Linked DNA regions of Homo sapiens. The protein of the gene in region 1 purifies or fractionates together with the protein of each later gene. This does not show direct contact. Each region holds a gene or a part of one and is shown on either strand. Other genes may lie near its edges.

Evidence for each region. The genes of interacting proteins can lie anywhere in the genome.
Region 2: the proteins of GRAMD1B (region 1) and FNDC3A purify together in Homo sapiens (affinity purification with mass spectrometry; 2 studies listed by BioGRID and IntAct, with this or other methods). This does not show direct contact.

The regions. Positions count from the first base shown.
Region 1 is NC_000011.10:123,611,726-123,615,381, reverse strand, and holds part of GRAMD1B (protein Aster-B), read right to left. Parts: intron 2,622-3,656; coding exon 2,518-2,621; intron 1,928-2,517; coding exon 1,724-1,927; intron 638-1,723; coding exon 547-637; intron 1-546. UniProt on the Homo sapiens protein: Cholesterol transporter that mediates non-vesicular transport of cholesterol from the plasma membrane (PM) to the endoplasmic reticulum (ER).
Region 2 is NC_000013.11:48,982,339-48,985,994, reverse strand, and holds part of FNDC3A (fibronectin type-III domain-containing protein 3A), read right to left. Parts: intron 1-3,656. UniProt on the Homo sapiens protein: Mediates spermatid-Sertoli adhesion during spermatogenesis.

The DNA.
Region 1 (3,656 bases):
TTACTGTGCCTACTGTTTTATAATGTCATAGCAATTATTATAAATAGTCTACATTAAAATAAGCATCCACTTTTCTTGTATTGTAGGCATTGATTTTGTCTGGCTACCCTGCCAACGTGTGGGCTCCATGAGTGCACAGTTCCAGTGCCTGGCACAGAGCAGACACCCAGAACATCTAATGAAGGAATGAACTCCTAAAATGCCCTCTAGCATTTCTCTGTTAGCATTTAACCATCTGTGCAGGAATTTCAAATGTTCTGTCTCTCTCACCCACTTGAAACTGAAACCCTGAAGGGTATGGATGCTGCATGAAGCATTTTCTTCTGAAGGCCTAGCATACAGTAAATGCTGAACAAAGCAGAGAAAAAGAAGCGAAGAGGTAAGCAACAGGCAGAGCAACCAATCCAGACAGAGAAGACTAGAGGATAAGGCAAAAACCAGGGCAAACAGTAAGGGTGCTCAGATGCTTCAAGAGACGAGGGCTGGGGCACCAGGCTGGAAAGGGAAGGTGGTGAGGGCAGGATAGGAAAACCTAGAATCCCTTACACACAGCTGATAACCAGCAGCAGCTTGGACACGCTCTGCAGGTGGAAACCGTTGGGGGTGTCCTCCGGGATATGCCGCGTCTGTGTGGAACCTGTGGGGAGAATTAAAGAGACCATCACCATGGTGACCCACAAGTCCAACAACTGCTGGTGGGGACACTGGTCAAACAGCAAACATCAGAGACTGATGGAAAAATGTCCATGACACTGTGACAGCAACGATATGCGGAGACTGCCAGCTCTCCAAGAGGAGAAGGTAAAATCCTCAAGGGCAAGGTCATGGGTTGGGTCAGGTCATCATTGAACAAATGAGAAAATCAACAGGCCCATGTAGCTAGGATACACAGGCCCAGGACAAAGGGATCTTCAGCTATGGGAGAGGATGTGGCATTGGGCTAGGACTAAAGACGGCTGGCTTCTGGGTCTGGATCTATTCCTAGTAAGCTACATGATGGAGGACAAGTCATGTAAGCTCTCTGAGAGTCAGTTTACTCAAATGCAATGTCAGTCAGAAATCTTAAATGCAAAACACGTAACATGGAAGTGCTAGGGGTAAAGCTAGGCGGCATGCAGAAGGCTGGCACTCTTCCCCCACTCTCCCCTCTTCTTCTGCCTCCCCTGTCCATATCCAACTCAATTAGTTGGTCTCTAAGGCCCCTTAGAGTCCCAGGTTTCCAGGATTCAGCAAAGACAAGGATGTGAATGGCTGGGTGGGAAGAGGAAGAAATATTAAGGGAGTCCACGGCCTGAGAGGGCAAGCCTGGGTTGGCCCATGCGGGTTGAAGTGAACGGGGACTGTCTTGGTCTCCCTGATCTTTGTGTAATGAGGTAATCTCTGTGGTCTGAGCTGTGGGATCTCCTTAGTGTATTTCCCAAGAACTTGGAAGCTTCATACTTGAGCCTATGCAGGTAGCCATGGAACTAGGGCAACACGAAAGCATAAACACTAAGGCAGCTTTTGTTAATTAGAGCACACATATGGGTTCAGCTGGGGCTGAGGAACTTAAAGAGCAAAGAGAAACAGAGCATTGGGAGCCTCAGATTTAGTGACTTACGTTCAAATTATATACAAATTATAGCCAAGGTGCAAAATGAGTGTGCATGTGTGTGCCTTGGTGTGGGCATGCAGCTCCAGCCCAAAGCTTAGTCCACCCGACCTGTCCCCACCTGGCACACACCTGCCACATGTTTGATCCTGTGGCCCACATCCTCATCTGTGGGCGTGGTGACCGGGCTCATCACCTCTTCCAGGTGAGGGACTCGCAGGTGGGCATGGGGACGCTTCCTCCTCCGCACCGTTGTAGTCTTGCTGGCCTTCTCTTTGGGAGATTGTCTGTGCATCTCAGCCAAATAAGTGCTCTCCGTTTTGGCCAGCTCGCTCTCTATCAGAGACAAAAGGACCACAGGAGAGGCCACCTTCAGCCCTCCAATGCAACTCTCTGCAGAACCATTTTCCTATTCTGTATTCTGGGAAGTTGGTTGGGTGGGTTGAGGATCCTCAGGGATGCCCATGAGCCTCAGGAGGTACTTGTGGGACCCAGCCCCAGTCAAACCCTTCCTCTGGGGTTGTTCAACATTGCAAGGAACCATATGTTCCCAATATCTGCACCCTCATGTATACAATTTGGGGCATACACGTCTTAAATAGATGCATTCACAGGCATTTTACAAATACTTCTCGTCACAGAGCCACCTATATCACTAGGTCTGTGGTTCCTTTTGGGGTGAGGGGTGTTTTATAGATCCCTCAATGATCTCTTAAACATCCTAGACACAGTCTAGAAAAATGCACTTGTCCACATACATGCCAAATTTGGTGTCCACTTCTGAAGCAGGTGTGGGTACCTCATGAAACTACTTCACCTTTCAGTCTCTGCCTCTATTCTCAATACCATTCCCCTGAATGGTGGGCGGCCGCAGTGCAGTTTACCATCTCTGCAGCCCAGCTAGCAGCAAGGATTGCAGTGCTCACCTAAATGGCGGAAGTAGTCCTCCAGCCCACTCCAGAAGTTCTTCTCGATGAACGTTTTCACTAACCCCCAGGGCTGTTTTCGATAGCGCAGCTCTGTGGAGACCCTGAGGAGCAAGCCAGACACAAGATCAGTCATTTCCTGGGTGGGCCTGCCTCTGCTGGGAAAAGGGAAATTCGGAGTTAAGGCCAGATCCGCTTCACATTTGTACTAAACTTTACAAGTTAAAAGGTCCTTCCACATCCATCTCACCCTCTGAAGTCAGTGGAGCTGGTGGATTTATCCCCATTTTATAGATAAGAAAACTGAGCCGTAGGATATTTAAGCAGAGCAAAGGCTAACAACTAGGGTTCTGACTCCAGAGTTCTCTTATGATGGCACACTGCCTCCTCTCAGGGGTCTCACATAGGGCCCAGCAGCCTGCCTGCCAGGCAAGGGGAAGCTCTGCCTGAGGTTCAAGTCTTTTGAGAAACTGACACTGAAAGAAAGTAAGACGGCTCATCCTTTCATCAGGGTCATTCTCTCCTTCTCCAGAGACTTTTAAGTCTAAGTCAAGTTCTGGGTTTTTATCACTTTAACCTTTAAAAGTATGTCATCCTGGGCAACAGAGTGAGACCCCCATCTCTACAAAAACAAAAATAATTAGCCAGGGTCATGTCTGTAGTCCCAGCTAATGGGAGGTTGAGGTGGAGGTTGAGGCTGCAGTGAGCCATGATCACACCACTGCACTCCAGCCTGGGGAAGAGAGTGAGATCCTGTCTCAGAAAAAAAAAAAGAATATCATCTGCTGCCAGCCCTGGCTCCTGCCTCTCCACTGCACCCCAGACCTCACCAGCTCTTGCTCTTTTCCAAGCATTCTTGCTCCCAGTCACTGGTCACACTTCTGTCCATACCCCCTGCAGTATCAGCTCTTTTCTCTCCTATGCAGCAGCCCTGCTCTTTGCCTCCCCCTTAGGTTCATCTGCATCTGTCAATAGATTCTCCCAGCTAATCCATCCCGCCCCATCCCGCCCTGTGACTAAGGCTGCCAGCCCAGCCTCATCCCCCTCCTCAGGGATGCCACCTCCACCCATGTCCAGATGGGAGAATGCCTGTACTTGGAGACATGTCACTCCCCAACTCAACAACCGCTGACTGCATC
Region 2 (3,656 bases), on another chromosome or scaffold:
AGTGCTATTAAAAATTACGCAGGGAAAACCGACATAAATCAAAGCTGTCCACCCAGGAGGAATGGTCCTAATCAGGACCAATCATAACAAAGCCTTGCATGTGTTGTTATGTTTGTTATATCACAAAGGCTGTACTTGCTTATACTTGAAAATACACATACAAACATTGTTTTTAACTCTTTCCTGATCCCTAATCCAACTCCTATTTCTATAGCTAACAACTGTGGTGTACCCTTCCAGTCTTTTTCTCTGTGCTTACCTGTGTGTTAGGTTTTCTGGGATTGGTTGTTATGTAAGTGAAATCACATACACTGCTTTTGTGTATTGTATTTTTTTTGTGTGTGTATGAATTGTGTCTTTGTGTATGTATTATATTGTATCTCGCCCTTTCATGTAAAATATCTTAAGAAGTACATCTATGTCTATTTCATGTTTTTTCATAAGTATCTAATATTATAGTGTAAGGGCACACCATAATTTAACTGTTCTAATGATGATCTTATTACTTCCAGTTTCCCATCATACATTTTCTCCTCTGCATGGAATAATCATGCAATACTCTCTATTAATGAATGATAGCATTTCTATATTACAGACATATAGAAATAAAACTTCTGGCTCAGGAGAACGTACATTTGAAATGGATAGATACTGCCAAACTTTTCTCCTAAAAAGATGAAGCTATTTATATTCGGTTCAATAGTATTCCTTCAAAACTTAACAGGCTACCTATATTTCTACCTCTATAAATTTCCTGCTTACATTCTTTCCCATTTTCTATCAGGTTATCTTTTTCATATTGATTTGTAGGTACACCTTATATACCTTGAATATTAATTTTGTCTATTACATGTCGAATATTTTATCCCAGTCTATTGCTTGCCTTCCTTTTTAAATGGCATCTAAGTTTGATGTCTCACTTAAAAGGCCTTCTCTACTCCAACGAGTTTTTAAATTAACTTTTAAAAGTTTTGTCATTTTATTTTTTATTTATCAACATTTAGTCCACTCGGGGCTGGGCACAGTGGCTCACGCCTGTAATCACAGCACTCTGGGAGGCTGAGGCGAGCAGATCACAAGCTCAAGAGATCGAGACCATCTGGACAACATGGTGAAACCCCGTCTCTACTAAAAATACAAAAATTAGCTGGGCGTGGTGGTGGGCACCTGTAATCCCAGCTACTTGGGAGGCTGAGGCAGGAGAATCGCTTGAACCTGGGAGGCGGAGGTTGCAGTGAGCCGAGATCACGCCACTGCACTCCAGCCTGGTGACAGAGCGAGACTCCATCTCAAAAATAAATAAATAAATAAAAATAAAAAACCATTTAGTCCACCTGGAACTTAGTTTTGAGAGTGTCACGAAGTGGGTACCTAACTATCTTTACTTCAATTAAACAGTTGATTGTCCCACACCCTTTATAGACCAGTTCTTCCATTACTCATTCATTTATCATACAATTCTTCTTTATCCATGTTTATCTATGGATCTTCTCCTGAATTTATTATTCTATTCCTTTGATCAATATGCCTATTCCTACTCCAAATTCTTATTTTAATAATTGTAATTTTATAATGTTTCGACCTTTGATGGGTCCCATTTATTATACTTCTTTTTGAAATTTACTTGGCCATTCTTGTGCATGCTCCCTTCTCAAAACTTGAACCATCAGTTTGTCAAATTCCATTTTAAAACTCCTGTTGAATTTCTGATTAGAACTGCATTGACTTTATAGAATAATTTAGTAAAAGCTGTCATTTTTATGGCATTAAGTTGACACATTCATGAATACTCCTCCATCCATTCACATCTTTTTGCAGTTTTCTTCACATAGCTATTACACATTTTAAAATCTTAAGTATTTTATAGTTTAGGCTGCTACTTCTTATTACTGTATTTCATAGTTGGTTATTGTTGATATATAAGAAGGCTAATGAATTTTCTAACTTTATCTTATAGCCAATCAGCTTACTGAAATTTTTTAATACAAATCTTTTTCTGTTATCTCATATTTTTTTGCTATTTGTATTTGTATTATATTTATTTGTATTTGTAAGCAGTCATATCAACTCTAAATAATAGTGATACATTTCCCCCCTTTATTTACAGGTTAATTATTTTTCTTGTTCTTAATGTATTGCCTAAGACTTTTGAACCAATGTTGTGTTCCTATCTATTAATGAAAGTGCTTCTATTATTACTCTATGACATTTGGTGATAATAGTATCTACCGCAGAGAGATGTTTTAAGGCTTAAGTAAACTGATACATATAAAGTTTTTTGCAATAGCACCCAGAATACAGAAAGTGTTTAATGCCTATTAATCATATTATTTACTAAGTGCCTTTTATTTGTCAAGCACAAATAAAAGTATATGCATGCACCATTGCAGAGGTTGGCAAACTAAAGCCTGTGGGCCAAATCTGGTCTGCTGCCTAGTTTCGTAAATGAAGTTTAATAGGAACACAGTCATGCCCATTGTTTATAATTTATCTATGGCTGTTTTTGTGCTCCTGTAGCACAGTTTAAGTAGTTGCAACTGAGCCCATATGGTCCACAATGCCTAAAATATTTACTACCTTCTCTTATATTAAAAAAGTTGCTGACTCCAGTAGTACTGGTCAAACTCAAGGAGTTCATAGTTGAATAGCTGATTTAGACAAGTAAAAAATATATATACATTACAGTATGATATATACAACCCAGATATTCTGTGGGTATTATGGAAACATTTTGCATTTAAATATTAAAAGACAGGAAGGACTCACACAAGTGAAAAGACACAAGATATTTTAATTATTTAAAAATATGTATTTATTTACATATCATTATCTCTCATCCCATTCTGTAAATTTCTAAAGGGGAGGGAGTGTGACATTCATTTTTGTGACATTCAACATTCATATTCTAAGTATCTAGGACATTTTAAATGTTCAACAAATGATAGGCAAATGAATAAATGAATGATATGCAGGATGCCTGAGTGACAATGATTAGGTATGTCTGTCAAAGTTCTAGATATAAATATCCTATGGCAAGCATTTTACTTGTCATGTTAAATAGGATCTTTTAATTCTTGTACAGTCTATATTAGGAGATAGCTACTATTATTACTACACTGTAAAATGAACGAACCAAGGCTCATACAGGTAAAGTAGCACACTCATGTTTCTATACAGCCAGTATGAGAAGTCAACTAACAATCCTGTGGCTGCCTAATGAGAAATATGTTCTCTACACTATATCACAAAGTTGTAAAGAGGTAAGAAATGATGACACAATAGGATATCAACAGAGTATGGACTCTCAAAGACAAAGGAAATTATAATTAATGCAGCAGGAATTGTATTGTGATTTCGATTTCTAAAACTGGGGAATGATCTGAATAAATTCATGTTTTTTAAATATCCTGGAAGCAGCCTAAAAGATGGTTAGAGGGGCAGTAGCCCCTACATTTTACCCAAAGGCTACTCTGTCACACACACTAGGCCAGTTTTAGTAAGGTTCAAGTGATTAAAACAAAAATGCGAACATACTATTTCAGGAATACCAATCTGAAGCATCAGGAAAAGCTGATCCTAATAGTTACTAAAGAAACAAAAAGGTACTTCATAAACTATGAAGGTACTATGCTAAAAATTTTTTTTAGGTATATATT